2 separate regions of the Homo sapiens genome follow, and region 1 is linked to region 2. Evidence: fine-mapped expression QTL. Tissue or cell type: whole blood. Region 2 holds a variant in brackets; the other region holds the start of a gene. All regions are shown on one strand. Distances are between the middles of the regions.

The links. PIP is the estimated chance that this variant, and not a neighbour inherited with it, causes the effect.
Region 1: it holds the start of ABCA1, and the variant in region 2 is fine-mapped to the expression of ABCA1 in whole blood (TOPMed, PIP 0.92).

Annotation. Positions count from the first base shown.
Region 1 is chr9:104,924,081-104,932,185 of GRCh38, forward strand. It overlaps ABCA1 (ATP binding cassette subfamily A member 1), which reads right to left and starts at 4,075. Exons shown (of 50, transcript NM_005502.4): 1 at 3,855-4,075. LOC105376196 (a long non-coding RNA gene) reads left to right here and starts at 2,709. Exons shown (of 3, transcript NR_188620.1): 1 at 2,709-3,830; 2 at 5,428-5,644. RefSeq lists silencers at 2,469-2,708, 4,045-4,234 and enhancers at 3,385-3,444, 3,765-3,844.
Region 2 is chr9:105,101,114-105,109,218 of GRCh38, forward strand. The region is part of intron 1 of LOC105376197 (a long non-coding RNA gene); the gene reads left to right. Among named protein-coding and RNA genes, the nearest start is that of CT70, 110 kb to the left of the region's middle. The variant C/T (reference allele first, on the strand shown) is at 4,456.

The DNA of each region.
Region 1 (8,105 bases), 180 kb before region 2:
AACAGTACTTGCCACACAGTGCTATATAAGTGTCTATTCAACACTGCAATAACTTTGGCCATTCATGGTTGTATCCACATGCAGATACGAAGATGGTTGCATTTTTTGGAGTAGGCCTTCTCTCAGCATAAACAAAACAAGTGTTCAGAATGATCTTTTAACATTTGATGCTAGAGTAAATGACCATAACAACTACTATAATGGTATTATTTATTTAATATCTGGATACTTAAAAAAATGTATTTGAGGCCAGGTGTGGTGGCTCATGCCTGTAATCCCAGCACTTTGGGAGGCTGAGGCTGGCAGATCACTTGAGGTCAGGAGCTTGAGACCAGCCTGGCCAACATGGTGAAACCCTGTCCCTACTAAAAACACAAAAACTAGCCGGGTGTGGTGGCACGCACCTGTAATCCCAGCTACTCAGGAGGTTGAGGCAGGAGAATCACCTGAACCTGAGAGGCGGAAGTTGCAGTGAGCCAAGATCATTCTACTGCGCTCCAGCCTAGGCAAAAGAGCAAGACTCCATCTCAGAAAAAAAAAAAAAAGAAAAAGTATTTGGTTTTAAAAGTATTTTAGAAATGCAAAAACCACATGCATTTTGATATTTTCTAGACATCTAGATATCTTCATAATTAGAAGAGTCTATCTAAGGTAATGTTCACTTATTCTAGCAGCTAAAAATGAAAACAGTGAAGACCTTAATTTGTAGCCACTACATATATAGCTTAAGTATCCCGGCTTACGGGAGAGAAGATCCCTTTAAAAAAAAAATTTAAATGGAAAAATATCCCAACCAACTCCTCTCCAAAAAGGTAAGTACTACAGAAGATAATAAAAAGCTAAGTCACTGAACTTCTTCAGTTTCATTCATTTTTTTATGTTTACAATGGGACTTCCTTGAGCAGAAGGAACCAATCCTTGAAAACAATCAATTCCTGATCACTCTTTTCCAATCCTGCACTAATGCACTGTCTCACACAAACCGAAAATATGTTCTAAGTCAAAATGTGTCCAGGGGTCGGGCGCGGTGCCTCACGCCTGTAATCCCAGCACTTTGGGAGGCCGAGGCGGGTGGATCAAGAGGTCAGGAAATCGAGACCATCCTGGCCAACATGGTGAAACTCTGTCTCTACTGAAAATGCAAAAACTAGCCAGGCATGGTGGCGTGCGCCTATAGTCCCAGCTACTCAGGAGGCTGAGGCAGGAGAATCTCTTGAACCCAGGAGGTGGAGGTTGCAGTGAGCCATATCGTGCCACTGCACTCCAGCCTGGGAAACAGAGCGAGACTGCATCTCAAAAAAAAAAAAAATGTGCCCAGGGTCCATTATAGGCCTGCACTCGTAGAAATACGAGGGTTGAGATTTCAAATGCTCATCTGCAGGGGAGACAACATATCACACGTGTCCAGGTTACAGTCAGATATGTCATTCTGGAACACTATGCGGGTGCTCAAATACAGACTCCTAAATTGCTCTGACAACAGTAGCAATTCTAGTCCCTTAAATGGCTTGTAGTCATCGTGAAGGCTGAAGACCCACTTCCCCGGTCCTTCTGATTGTAAACCAATGTTTTCCTAAAATTCCCTAGCATTAATTATTTTAATGGTTTGTGGAATTATTTAATGGTTTGTGGAAGCACTTGGGAAACAGGCTGACAATGGAAACTTTGTATTTGAAAAATATTGTAATATCTGTAGAGGTTCTACTCAGGAATACTTTCCATGCTTCCATACTTTCTCTGATTTAGGAGAAAGTTTCTCAAGAGAATGATACTCTCAACAGAAACGGAAAGTTTCTCAACAGAAAGCCTCCATTATTTTTGTGGTAGGTATGAGAAGAATAGGTTGAAATAAAAGGGGAGATGAAAACTTAAGGACTTTAAGTTTTGTTTGAAAAGAAGATCATAATTTAAGTCTGGGTTCTAAACTACGGCCGTTAAAAAAAAAAGAAAAAAAAATCAAGAAAATTCCACTCTTTAACTTGGGGGAAATTTTTGTGAGGTTCTCTTCGTGGGAAGCAGGGATTCGGCCATGGAGGGCAAGTGACTTGCTGATTTCAGTACCCAGAAGGTTTTTTTAAATATGAAATTTGTCCACTATGAGATGAATGTGTATATACTACCCATTCTCTTCTTGAAGTGTCAATGAAAAGTCGGATTTTAAAAGCTAATGGTATCAGTGCTGCAAAGGCAGGCCAATTACTGCCAGTGCCAGACAACTTTTTTCTTTGTTTATTTTTAATCTTATTTCTTTGCTTCTTTTTGATAAAAGATATACCTAAAGAGGCACCTACACATAACCCTGGCACCGTCCGCCGCCCCAAGAACCTTCCTGCTTTACCAATGGCCTGGGAGTTGGCAAACACGCTAACAAAAAAAAAAACCAAAAAAACAAAAAAAAAAAAACAAAACGGGCTTTCGCCTCAACCTCATAGTTCCTCCCCGTCTGCAACCACCGGTCTTCACCGGATTCACAGTCGGAACCGCGAGCAAAGACACCTAGTAGAGCCGGCCGATTCCTAGGTCCTCCGGCCAGGAGGCGCTGCGGGCCAGTCTCCGGGGGCCACCGCAGCCCGCGCGCCCAGCACCCCCACCCTCACGGCAGAGCCCAGCCCAGCCCCGCGGCGGAGCTCCGAGTTCTGCGCCGCCCGCCGGGGTTACTCCCGGTCATTCCACGGCACCACCTCGGCCCAGCTTCCCCATCTGCGCCCAGGCAGAAGCTGCCCCGAGAGACCAGCAGCAACGGTCTGGAAGATGGGGCTGCAGGGAACGTGGGAGAGGGAGGATTGGGCACCCCACCTCCGGGTCTCCGCAGGCTCTCCTAAGTCTTGTTTTTAAAAGAAACAAAACTCGGCCGCGCGCGGTGGCTCACGCCTATAATCCCAGCACTTGGGGAGGCCGAGGCCGGTGGATCACCTGAGGTCGAGGGTTCGAGACCAGCCTGGCCAACAAGTTGAAACCCCGTCTCTACTAAAAATACAAAAATTAGCTGGATGTGGTGACGCGCCTGTAATCCCAGCTACTCAGGAGGCTGAGGCAGGAGAATCGCTTGAACCCGGGAGGCGGAGGTTGCAGTGAGCGGAGATCGTTCCATTGCACTCCAGCCTGGGCGACAGACCGAGACTTAAAGGAAAGAAAAAAAAGAAAAAGAAAAGGAAACAAAACTCGTCCGCGCTCTGCGCCAGGGACACCAGCTCAGCTGAGCGCACGGAGACTGTAGGCAGGACCTCCCTACCCCTCAGGTCAAACAAAGACCCAAGGCCTCTAGTGAGCAATAGCACCACGGACCGTTTGGGACACCTCCAACTCGAGTTCCCGGATTCACAGTCCGGGACTGTGCCGCTCCAGTCCCGGGGAGCATATAGCCAATTCCCAGGTCAGAACAGACCAGCTTCTTAAGAACCGAGTGAAGACTCAGTGCTGGCATTTGTCTCCGTAGGTACTGGCCGACCTGCAACCAGAAGGGTTTCTAGCCAGCTCAGGGCCCTCCGAACAAAGCAGCGCTCGGTGCCGGACCTGCAGCTCTCCCCACCCGGCAGCAGCGCCCTCAGCACGCCCGGGAACCCCCGACCCCTCTGAGCCCGGGGTACTGCGCCCGGGTCTCCACGCCCAGAGATGCTCCCCGGTCTCCACCGTCGGGCAAGCCCCAAGCGCAGCAGCGCAGAGTCCTGGGGTCACCAGAGCTCGTACTAGGACATCGTCTCCCCATTTAACACCGCCTCCGGTCCCATCTGAGTTGCAAGTGGTGGGGATGTGGGGCTCCGGATCAAAGTCCCCGAAACCGAGCACTTCCCGAAGCCTCCTTGGCCTCGAAACAAAACAATAACGCCCAAGTAAGTCACTGGAGAGCCTCTTACCTGTTTTCCACTTTTGTGTTTGCGTCTCTTTCTCCTACCCCTTGACAAGCCTTCCGGAGAAGGGGAGAAAACAGAACCGGGGAAAAAACAAGGAGCAAAGCGCCCTGAGAACCGGCTCTGTTGGTGCGCGGAGCTCCCCGCCCTGCCCTGCCGCAGCCCGGGAGAGAAGGGTCGGCTCGGCTCTGCGGGTCCCGGCCCCACTCACTCTCGCTCGCAATTACGGGGTTTTTGCCGGGACTAGTTCCTTTTATAGATTCGGCTGCACCGAGCGCAGAGGTTACTATCGGTCAAAGCCTGTGCTCTCCCTCCTCCCCGCCCCGTTCCCGGCCTCTGTTTATGTAGTTCAGTCACTCAGCAGAAAGCACGTGGAGCCGGGGCCCGCCCCTTAAACGGGCGACGTTCAGCCGCCCACGACACATCTAGGGAGTTGGGGGGAGGTGGGTGGGGTGGGGGTGGAGGGTACAGCAGGTGTCTTAGGGTCCGCGGTCTGCGTCCCCTTCCCCCGCCCGGGCCCGCCGGCCTAAGACGCGCGGGAAGCGCTGGGCTCGGGGCTGCGCCGCAGACTCTCTAGTCCACGTTCCCGGCAGCCAAGGGCACCAGTGGAATTTGCTTCCTCTAAATCCTGCTTTCCGCAATTTTTTTTTCCTTTGTTAGTTTCCTCAGCCGGAGGGAGGGATTGGGGGAGAGAGAGCTCTAGGCTGAATCTCCCTCAGGACGCCAATCATTTTGTCTTGTCTTTTGTTTCCTTTCAAAGGCCTAGGCTGGGGTGAGGGGAAGGCGGACAGTCCTCTGGGTAATGGGCTGCTTTTGTTTTCCCCCCACAAACCTGGACTTTGATTTTTGATAGGCGACCTACTGCCTTGGAGATTCCCAGCCTGAGCTCCCCAGGTCCCTCAGAGGACCCGAGAGGAACATCTTACTGCTTCTCTTCATAAATTGAGAGGAAGGAGGCCACAAAAACAAAAAAAGAAACAAACAAACAAAAACACAGAACAATATGGACCAGCCCCCTTTTAATTTCATTATATTGATCAGCCTCCCTGTGATAAAAACACAGGACTTGTATTTAGTTTGTATACATTTGTGAAGTGCAGCCAGAGAATTGCAGTCGTGTAAAATTATGTAGCCACTCCAGACCTCCAACTTATCTGTTTGCCTTTGGCTGTAGGGGAGCAAAACTACCCAAAACACTGGAGGGGCAAAAAAAAAGGCAAGAGTAGGAATGCAGGCCTACACACCATATGTCTAAATATTTAAGTCATCCATCAAGCCAACAAACTAAATGTCACCTTATTCTGGCCAAAACTCAGGTCAAACTGTGAAGAGTCTAAATATGAATCTGCCCTGAAGGGCAGATTCATAGAAGACTCAGGACAGACCCGTAGAAGAGGCCCAAGCAGGCCCTGGAAGTGCACGTGGAGGCCACAAGGTCTCCTACCTTGACAAAGATACCTTTGTAGCCACCTTGAAGGGCAGATTCACATTTAGACTCTTCACAGTTTGACCTGAGTTTTGGCCAGAATGAGGTGGCATGAGAGAGCTGCCCCAAGCCTACTTCTCTTCCCACCTCCAGCTCCATCATATTCCAGAACTCCCACCACCTGCATACAGACATTCAGCTGCACAAGCCCCCTCCATGCTACAGTCAACAGGATCTCCAGGCCACGGCTCAAGCCCAGGTACTCACATCAGTGGTTCTATCAACACTCAGGACAGACCCATAGAAGAGGCCCAAGCAGGCCCTGGAAGTGCATGTGGAGGCCACCAGGCAAGGAATTCTGGAGTCCCAGGTACTCATAACTCTGGGTGGCATGGCCCCTTTGCACCATGGACTGTTTGCCCTTAGAAAGGGATGGATCTGAGCTGGGCGCAGTGGCTCATGCCTGTAATCCCAGCACTTTGGGAGGCCAAGGTGGGCAGCTCACCTCAGGTCAGGAGTTCGAAACCAACCTGGCCAACATGATGAAACCCAGTCTTTACTAAAAATACAAAAATTAGCCAGATGTGGTGGCGAGCGCCTGTTATCTCAGGAGGCTGAGGCAGGAGAATCGCTTGAACCCGGGAGGCAGAGGTTACAGTGAGTCGAGATCATGCCACTGCACTCCAGCCTGAGTGACAGAGCAAGACTCCGTGTCAAGAAAAATAAAAAGAAAGGGATGGATCTCAGAAAGGCCAGAGATGAGCTTTCTAAAGCCCAAGGCCCAGGAGAGCGGACCCCCTTGCCTCAGTCAAAGAATAACCTTGGTCAATAAATTGGGTTTTGGGGTCAAACTTGACAACCACATGATGAGCAATTTACGTAAAGTCTTTCTGCCTCTGTTTCATCTTGTTTTTTTCTTTTTTCATCTTTTTTTCCTTCCTTCCTTCCTTCCTTCCTCCCCCCCTCCCTCCTCCCCTCCCCTCCCCTCATCTCCTCTCCTCTCCTCTTTCTTTCTTTCTCTTTCATTTCTTTTTTTTGAGACAGGGTCTTGCTCTGTCTACCCAGGCTGGAGTGCAGTGATCCAATCATGGCTCAGTGTAGACTTGACTCCCTGGGCTCAAGCGATCCTCCCACCTTAGCCTCCCAAGTAGCTGGGACCACAGGTGCATGCCACCACACCCATCTAATTTTCGTATTTTTTTTGTAGAGACAGGGTTTTGCCATGTTATCCAGGCTGGTCTCAAACTCTGGAGCTCAAGCGATCCTCTGGCCTCAGCCTCCCAAAGTGCTGGGATTACAGGCATTAGCCATTGTGCCCGGCCTGTTTCTTCATCTTTAAAATGGAGAGAAGATGTATATTCTGTCTTCCTCAAAGGGGTTTTCTGAAAGTGAACTTTGTTGAAACCTTTGAGCTCCTTGGCAGAATGATGTTATAAAAGCAGAGAGTGTTATTAAAAGGTGTTATCTTTCCTAGCATGATTTTAGAGAGTAATTAGATCTCCCTGACCCTCCATCTCCTCTCTCCTTCTTCTCCTACCTATTTGAAGTCGACCACCAAAATCATTATTTTTTTTTTAATTGAGATGGAGTTTCACCTTTTGTTGCCCAGGCTGGAGTGCAATGGTGCGATCTGGGCTCATTGCAACCTCCACCTCCCGAGTAGCTGAGATTACAGGCACCTGCCACCATGCCCGGCTAATTTTTTATATTTTTTAGTAGAGACGGGGTTTCACTATGTTGGCCAGGTTGGTCTCAAACTCCTGACCTCAGGCGATCCACCTCAGCCTCTCAAAGTGCTGGAATTATAGGTGTGAGCCACTGTGCCCAGCCCAAAATCATTCTTTTTGGAATTTTGAAGCATATAATTCCAAAAGGTATGAAGGTAATCACTTAGATTGCTCTAATAAGGGAATGGGAACAGTTAAGTCCTATACAAATAAGACAAAGATAAGATACTACAAAAAGGGGATGAGCCCAAGAAAAAAATCAAAGTCCCAGAGAGAGAACAGCCATTGATTCTAAATACACAAGTCTATGGCCCCAACCCAAACTTGTTTCACTAAGAACAACCTGTGGTTTCGAGAATCTGGTCATCCCCCACAGTGAATACATGAACACATTGTAATGTTTGAAATGTTTATTTTTCTTGTTGATTTCTTACTGTTAGAAGAGCTAAGTGATTTGGCCCAAAGTGGCTAAGTGATTCGGCCAGTTTGTACACAGGGATATAAGTTTGCTGACACCAAGCTCATACTTTACAAATGTAATATCTTCATAAAACAAAAATACTGGGCCGGGCGCGGTGGCTCACGCCTGTAATCCCAGCATTTTGGGAGGCCGAGGCGGGCGGATCATGAGATCAGGAGATCGAGACCATCCTGGCTAACAGGGTGAAACCCCGTCTCTACTAAAAATACAAAAAATTAGCTGGGCATGGTGGCAGGCGCCTGTAGTCCCAGCTGCTCGGGAGGCTGAGGCAGAAGAATGGTGTGAACCTGAGAGGCAGAACTTGCAGTGAGCCCAGATCACACCACTGCACTCCAGCAGAGCAAGACTCAAAAATATATATATACTGAATCTCAAAAGCTAGAGCCTAAGAGATGCCCCTTAAAAAAGAAGCTTACAAGTGTGAATTTTCTTCCCTCCAGCCCTTAGGTTGGTTTGTCTTTTAGTATATTTCAATAAGCTTCCCCCTCCCCATCCCATCCCTGCCCCCCACACCAACACCAAAACCCCAAGTCCCTCCTCTAGGTGACTCCTTCCAAATACATAGGAAGGCCCTCCTTTGTTGCTGTTTTTCTGGAGAGGCTGATTCTGTAAATGTAGCCTGG
Region 2 (8,105 bases):
ACCCACTTGACACATAAAATACCAATAAATTGGCTGGGTGCAATGGTTCACACCTATAATCCCAACACTTTAGGAGGCTGAGGCGGGCAAATCAAGTGAGCCCAGGAGTTTCACACTAGCCTGGGCAACATAGCAAGACACCCACACCCCTTACCTCATCCCCATCTCTAGATAATTTTTTTTGTTTGTTTGTTTTTGTTTTTGTTTTTTTGAGACGGAGTCTCACTCTGTTGTCCGGGCTGGAGTGCAGTGGCACAATCACAGTTCACTGCAACCTCTGCCACCCGGGTTCAAACAATTCTCCTGCCTCAGCCTCCCGAGTAGATGGGATTACAGGCACCTGCTACTGTGTCTGGCTAATTTTTGTAGTTTTAGTAGAGACAGAGTTTCACCATCTTGGCCAGACTGGTCTTGAACTCCTGACCTCGTGATCCACTCGCCTTGGTCCCCCAAAGTGCTGGGATTACAGGCGTGAGACACCGCACCTCGCCAACAAAAAATTTTTTTTTAATTAGTCAGGTGTGGTGGTGTATACCTGTAGTCCCAGTTTCTCTGGAGGCTTAGGTAGGAGGATTGCTTGAGCCCAGGAGGTCTAGGCTGCACTGAGCTGTGATTGTACCACTGCACTCCAGTCTGGGCAATGGAGCAAGACTCTGTCTCAAAAAAAGAAAATCAATAAATGGCAGATTTGTCTTTAACTTCAACAACCTTTTAAAGTGTTTTGACAGAAGATAAACGATGAACCTCTGTGTTTATGGCTACCCCATCTCATTATAAAGCAGGGGTCCAGCTATGGCCCTTACATCAAATCCATTCCACTCTTGTTTTTATAAAGTTTTATTGAAATACAATCACACTCATTAATTTACATACTGTCTATGGCTGCTTTCACCCTACAGTGGCAGAACTGAATCACTATAATAGGGACCATATGGCCTGGAAAACCTAAAATACTGACTATCTTCTTTACCAAAAAAGGTTGCCAACTTCTGCTATACATCATTATGAAGTTTTTAAGATTAAAGTTTCTGTTTTCACAAAATTTATCACACCTAAAATTCCTGGAATTTTAGTTATTATGGCTCTAACTTCTTTGCTACAGTAACTGCATATGAATGATGCGGTCATTAAATTTCACTTATGCTCTATTCCTCTAGCCTTATCCCTCTTGTATTTAAGAAGTAATTATAATTATAATTGAAGGTATAATTATATCTTAATATAGCCCCTCCAAGATACATTTTTCTTAATGGCGATAGAGAGAATTGTTTTCTATGTATTTCAATATTGAACCAGAATCCAGCAAGTATCATAAATTGAGTCAAGTTAGAAATATCTGTACTTTCATCCAATTATATCAGAAACCTTCCACGATGTCAAATCTACCCTAATGCTTGTTTCCTCAGATCTTCAGCAATCTTTTCTATGCATTTTCCAATGATATTTGCTGACAAAGGAACACATTTTTCTTATTATTTCTGCCAAGTTTTACCAGGGCAGAAGAACACATATTTCTCTAATAGTATGTAGCTTTTTAACCTCTGCTGTTAAGCTAAAATCTATAAAGTTAGTGAAATTAAGTGAAATTGAGCAGTGCCTGATTAAAACATCCCTGTAAAAAAGCTGTAAGATTGGACTGCATACTCTAGATGCTTCATTTCTAAATGTTATGATAACCATGACAATTTTATGGATAAAACTCAAGCACAAGATACACTTTGGGGCAATGTTCATTGTCAGTGATGTTAGACTTAAATCCACAATTCAAACAGGGCTCCATGATAATGTCTAATTTTTTCGACACCTCTTGTCAGATCTCACTAGATATCATTGTTTTATCTCTTAATGTGGCAGACAAAGAGCTCATAACAGAGCAGAAATGTTTGTTTTGCCATTTTCTCATTGTTTCCTTATGCTTCCATTATAGGTATTGTCTTAAATTTACAATGTCATTACAGGTATCTTTTTAAGCTTTTTGTTCATTTTGTGAAAGTTACTTTAGTTCAAACTAGATAATGCATTTTTCTTAGAATCCACACTGGCCCAAGTAAACTGCAATATATCACAGGATGCTGAGAGCCAACACCCAGAAGAAGACAACTCAGTCAAGTCCTCCATGTTGTGGAAGCCCCACTCTTCCCTTAGAGAACTCATGAACTATTCTTGACATTTGACCTATGTGAAGACACAAATATCAACCTGTATATTAGATATTGGCAACACAATTTTTCTTTTAGAGGTCATAATAATTTTTTATATGGTGCGTTGCCATACACATTCTACACTGGAGACCACGATACTATACAATGATTTTGCCATTTTATTTTATTTTATTTTATTGAGACAGAGTCTCACTGTGTCACCCAGGCTGGAGTGCAATGGTGCGATCTTGGCTCACTGCAACCACTGCCTCCCAGGTTCAAGCAATTCTCCTGCCTCAGCCTCCCAACTAGCTGGGACTACAGGCGAATGCCACCATGCCCGGCTAACTTTTGTACTTTTAGTAGAAACAGGGTTTTGCCATGTTAGCCAGACTGGTCTCGAACTACTGACCTCAGGTGATCCACCTGCCTTGGCCTCCCAAAGTGTTGGGATTACAGGTGTGAGACACCGTGCCTGGCCAATTTTGCCATTTCAAAAAGCACAATACTTAAAGGAGGTGAGAGTTATTCTGCTAATACAGTAAGGTATTATATTAGGTTGGTGCTCAGCAAGTATCCAGTTGCTTATTGAGTACTTACCATATACCAACATACACACACACACACACACACACACACACACGAGTATATCAGGTGCTATGAGTGTTACCAAGATGAATCAAAATAAATCAGACATGAATTGCATTCAACTCCAGTCATTCACTAATTTATTCATCCACTAAGCAAACAATTACTGGGTGCCTTCAAGTTCCAGGGACAGAGTGAGTCACTATGGATTGGTGTCTTCGTGACTTCCACTTCAGATATGGCAAACTATTTATCCAACTTGAATTAGCTTGGATAGATTGTTCATTATTATAGTAACTTTTCATATTTTGGCGTCCTAGAGTTTGTTCTCCTATCCTAATAGCACTCCAGTTTCCTATTGGATAACACACTTTCCCCCACTGTGAGACAGTGAACCAAGCTGAAACTACAGGGTCAAAGACACCATGAATAAGGAGAAATTTATTCTCTGCAGGGAGAAAGCCAGAATTAAAAGAAGCAGAGATGAAAGATGAAAGGGTCTTAGGAAAAGAACAGCCTTATTTCCTTACTTTCTATCTACCTTTTATAGACCTTCTGAGGCCCAACTATGTATACCTTATTTCTTCTTCATAAATGTCTATAACATGGCCTCACTGTCCTGGACATTAGTTGTTATAGCCATATAATAAATGTACCATTTTACTTGGGTTAATTTTAGTGAGTTTCTCTTCCTTGCAACCAAACAGTTCCTGAGAATAATTTGGTCCCAGGAAGAGGCATTGCAAACGAGCACTAAGAGGAAACTAGGAATGATTGTTGTAGAACTGTGATACTCTCTTCCCTTCCCATCACCACCTTCCACCCCAGATAAAAAAGTTGGAGGTGTGAGATCTGAGATATAGAGTTTGAGAATCAGCTGATTAAACTTTAATCTTCAGTCTCCATCTCCATGTAACTTTAAGAAGAGTATCTTGAGATAGAGGAAAGATAAAACTCATTTCCAGATTGCCTGGCTTGAAATAGATTAGGGGGAAAAGAACACTCTGGGGGACTGGTAGAATCCATTTATTGCTATCCCAGCTTGGGGGATCTGGTAGTCTTAGTTAAGCCATCTAAGTACAGGTGTGAAAACTCTTTCCCATCATTTCTCTGAGGGTCTAGGAGTCATCTTTAGTCTAACAAAGAGGAAAGGTATTTTGGTAGAAATACCGTAAGAGGTAATTGGCCAGTGGCAGAAATAGATATATGCTTCAAGGTGAGCATTGCTTCTACAGGAAGGAAAACTATTAAGGAGACCTGATGTAAAATGAGCAAGGTTTCCTGAAGGGTGAATACCTGATCTTCAGAAGCCAGGGGATAAGTAATATAAGGCGTTCAATCTTGTGAAAACTGCAGTCAGCTGGCAAAGTTTCTAATCCAATATGACTCCGGGGGCACAAAGACAAGGCTTATTATGGACATCTTCTCAATTCACTTGTCCAGATTTTTCAGGTGGTGACCCCAATCCTGAGCCACTTTTCTGACTGTGGATCAATGGTCCCTCTTACTTTCTCACTATATCCCTTTCATCCTTTCACACTTGAAGGTTTATTCCTTCTTCCTTCCCTCCCAATTCCCCATCAGAGTCCTTAATGAGTTGACTCAGGATCATCAGTAAGAACTTTGATGGCCAATGAAAAACCAAAGCAGGGTAAAAAAAAGTAAGCAATGAGCAACAAATAGTAGCCCTTTCTCAAGAGCATGGAAGCATTTTTGAAACAATAGT[C/T]TTCAAAACACTATTGCCTAAATCTTCACTTCCTGGAAGGAAAGGGAGGTTAGACAGAGGACAGATAGATAGGTAGGTAAATAGAGACAGAGATAGACATTAAGAAATAGGTGTAGATTGTCTTAGTACAGTTTGTGTTGTTATAACAAAACACCTGAAATTGATAATTTTTTTTTTTTTTGAGACGGAGTCTCGCTCTGTTGTCCAGGCTGAAGTGCAGTGGCACAATCTTGGCTCACTGCAACCTCCACCTCCCAGGTTCAAGCGATTCTCCTGTCTCAGCCTCCCAAGTAACTGTGATTACAGGCATGTACCACCATACCCAGCTAATTTTTTTATTTTTAGTAGAGACAGGGCTTCACCATTTTGGCCAGGCTGGTCTCGAACTCCTGACCTCAGATGATCCACCCCGTCTCGGCCTCCCAAAGTGCTGGGATTACAGGCATGAGCCACTGTGCCCGGCCATGAAACTGGTAATTTATTTTATTTATTTATTATTATTTTTATTATTTTTTGAGATGGAGTCTCACTCTGTCACCCAGGCTAGAGTGCAGTGGTGCAATCTCAGCTCACTGCAACCTCTGCCTGCCAAGTTCAAGCAATTCTCCTGCCTCAGCCTCCCAAGTAGCTGGGACTACAGGCACGTGCCATGATGCCTGGCTAATTTTTTGTATTTTTAGTAGACACGGGGTTTCACCATGTAAGCTGGTCTCGAACTCCTGACCTTGTGATCCACCCATCTCAGCCTCCCAAAGTGCTGGGATTACAGGTGTGAGCCACTGTGCCCTGCCTGAGACTGGTAATTTATAAAGAACAAAAATTTACTTTCTCCCAGTTCTAGAGGCTGGAAAGTTCAAGATCATGGCACTGGCAGGTTCAGTTTTTTTATGAGGGCTGCTCTCTGCTTTCAAGATGACACCTTGTTGCTGCATCCTCCAGGGGGAGAAACACTGTGTCCTTACATAACAGAAGGTAGAAGGACAAGTGAGTCCAATGCTATTTGAAGCTTCTTATATAACAGTTTTAATCTCATTCATGAGAGGAGGACCGCTCATGATTTAATTACCTCTTAAAGGTCTCACCTCTTAATACCATCACATTGGCCATTAAGTTTCAATACCTGAATTATGGAGGGGACACATTCAAACCACAGCATGGACATACAGATTCTATTTTAAGGAAGGTAGCCACTGCTTTAAAGTAAGATGAATGATTTCTTCTAGTTCCAAATAGTTCAAAAAAAGACAGTCTGGTTTTTTTTTGTATTTTTTTTTTGAGATGGAGTCTTGCTCTTCTGCCCAGGCTGGAGTGCAGTGGCACGATCTCGGCTCACTGCAACCTCTGCCTCCCAGGTTCAAGTGATCTTCCTGCCTCGTCCCTCCTAGTATAGGCATGCGCTACTATGCCTGGCTAATTTTTGTATTTTTAGAAGTGACAAGGTTTCACTATGTTGGCCAGGCTGGTCTTGAACTCCTGATCTCAGGTGATCCACCTGTCTCGGCCTCCCAAAGTGTTGGGATTACAGGTGTGAGTCACCACACCCGGCCAAAAACAGGCTCTTTGGGGACAAGGTAAAAAAAAAAAAAATACAGGCGTGAGCCACTGCGCCCGGCCCTTTTTTTCCTCTTTTCTAAATTAAAGTTTTTTATTGTATTACATTCCTCAATTAAACATGGGTCGCTGAACCGAGAGAAGTCATATTCAAAGCAGCCCAAGAAGAAGAAAGATCCCCCAGAACTTTGGACTTGGAGCTTAACCTGCTGTTAAATACATCAAATTGTTTTGCTGTGGGAAAGGGGGTGAATATATTTTAGGTATCTGTATGAGGGCTGTGTGATTTCCAGGAACTGTCTTGGAATACTATTATGGGAGGAGAGTTTGTATTAGACTAAGCAGTCAAGGGGTAGACTGTAGCAGACTGTGGTTACTTACTTTTCCTCCCAGGAAGCTTTCACTTGTTCCTCCTGTTAAGAGATTCCATTATGCTGGCCACACACTGGGTAAATGATGCAGGTCTGGCCAATTCCCTTGGCAATAGCGATAGTTCAAGGGGAAGCATGCAACACAAGCAAAATCAATGAGAACCTTCATCAGGATTAAAATAGAGACTTGGGAAGAAAGATGTTTTTTCTCTTCTCTGGGGTTCCTAAGCTAGGACTACCAAAAGCCACGTCCATATGGAGAAGCAAGAGAGAATGACACCAACATGAACTGAAGAGCAAACACAAGTAATGATGATCATGAGAACAGGAGAAAAAACAAGTTTGTCATAGGGAGGCCTCAGTGCTAGCCCCTGAGATCATGGTTCTTCCTTTAGTTCTGTAAACTACTCCATTCCTGCTCTGTGCTCTAGTAACAACCACCCCCTTTTCTGCAGAGTCTAGTTTAAATTGGGTTTCCATCACTTTAAAGAGTCCTGACAGGCCAGGCGTGGTGGCTCGTGCCTGTAATCCTAGCACTTTGGGAGGCTGAGGCAGGTGGATCACCTGAAGTCAGGAGTTTGAGACCAGCTTAGCCAACATGGTGAAACCCTATCTCCACTAAAAATACAAAAATTAGCTGGGCATGGTGGCACATGCCTGTAATCCCAGCTACTCAGGAGGCTGAGGCATGAGAATTGCTTGAACCTGGGAGGTGGAGGTTGCAGTGAGCCAAGATCATGCCATTGCACTCCAGCCTGGGCAACAAGCAAGACCCTGTCTCAAAAAAAAAAAAAAAAAAAAAGAAAAAGAAAAAAGAAAAGAAAAGAAAAAAAGAGTCCTGACTAATACATGCCCAGAACCGTGGGGAACACAGAGGGATAATTTAACACAAATTTAGGACTTTTGTTGTTGACATTGTTATTATTATATTTTTTTAACTGTAATACAAGCCTAGGGTAAAAATTCAAACAGTATAAAGAGGTATATTATCTAATTATAGAATAAGTCTTCCTCCTAGAACCCTGCTTCAGAAGAAAAAAACCTGTTAACAGCTTCTTTTGTATCCTTCCAGAAATTTTCTTGAATTAAACTTATAGCACACTGAAGGATCAAGGAGAGAATGAAGCGAGTGAGATATATTACTCTCAGATCTAGCTCAACAAAGCAGATATATCAATATTATGTCATTTTTCCCCTTTTCTGATTATACTTGGTTTAAATTTGCAGTTGTAAAATTGCCTGTGAATGTCTACATTTTATATTTTTAAGTAAAAGCCCAACAGGGAAAAACTAACTAATGAGTTTTGTTTTGTCATCATGTAGGGCTTTTACAACATAGTTTAAAACACTCAACATCTTGAAACAATTAACAAAATCATTCACCTTCACAGAAAGTTGGTTTGTTTTTTAAGGCCTATAAACATAGAGGAACTTTTATTTTATTTTATTTTATTTATTATTTTTTTTTTGAGACAGAGTTTCACTCTTTTGCCCAGGCTGGAGTGCAATGGCGTGATCTCAGCTCACTGCAATCTCCGCCTCCCGGGTTCAGGCAATTCTCTTGTCTCAGCCTCCCAAGTAGCTGGGACTACAGGTGGCCACTACCACGCCCAGCTAATTTTTGTATTTTTAGTAGAGACGGGGTTTCACCATACTGGCCAGGCTGGTTTCAAACTCCTGACCTCAAATGGTCCAGCCACCTTGGCCTCCCAAAGTGCTGGGATTACA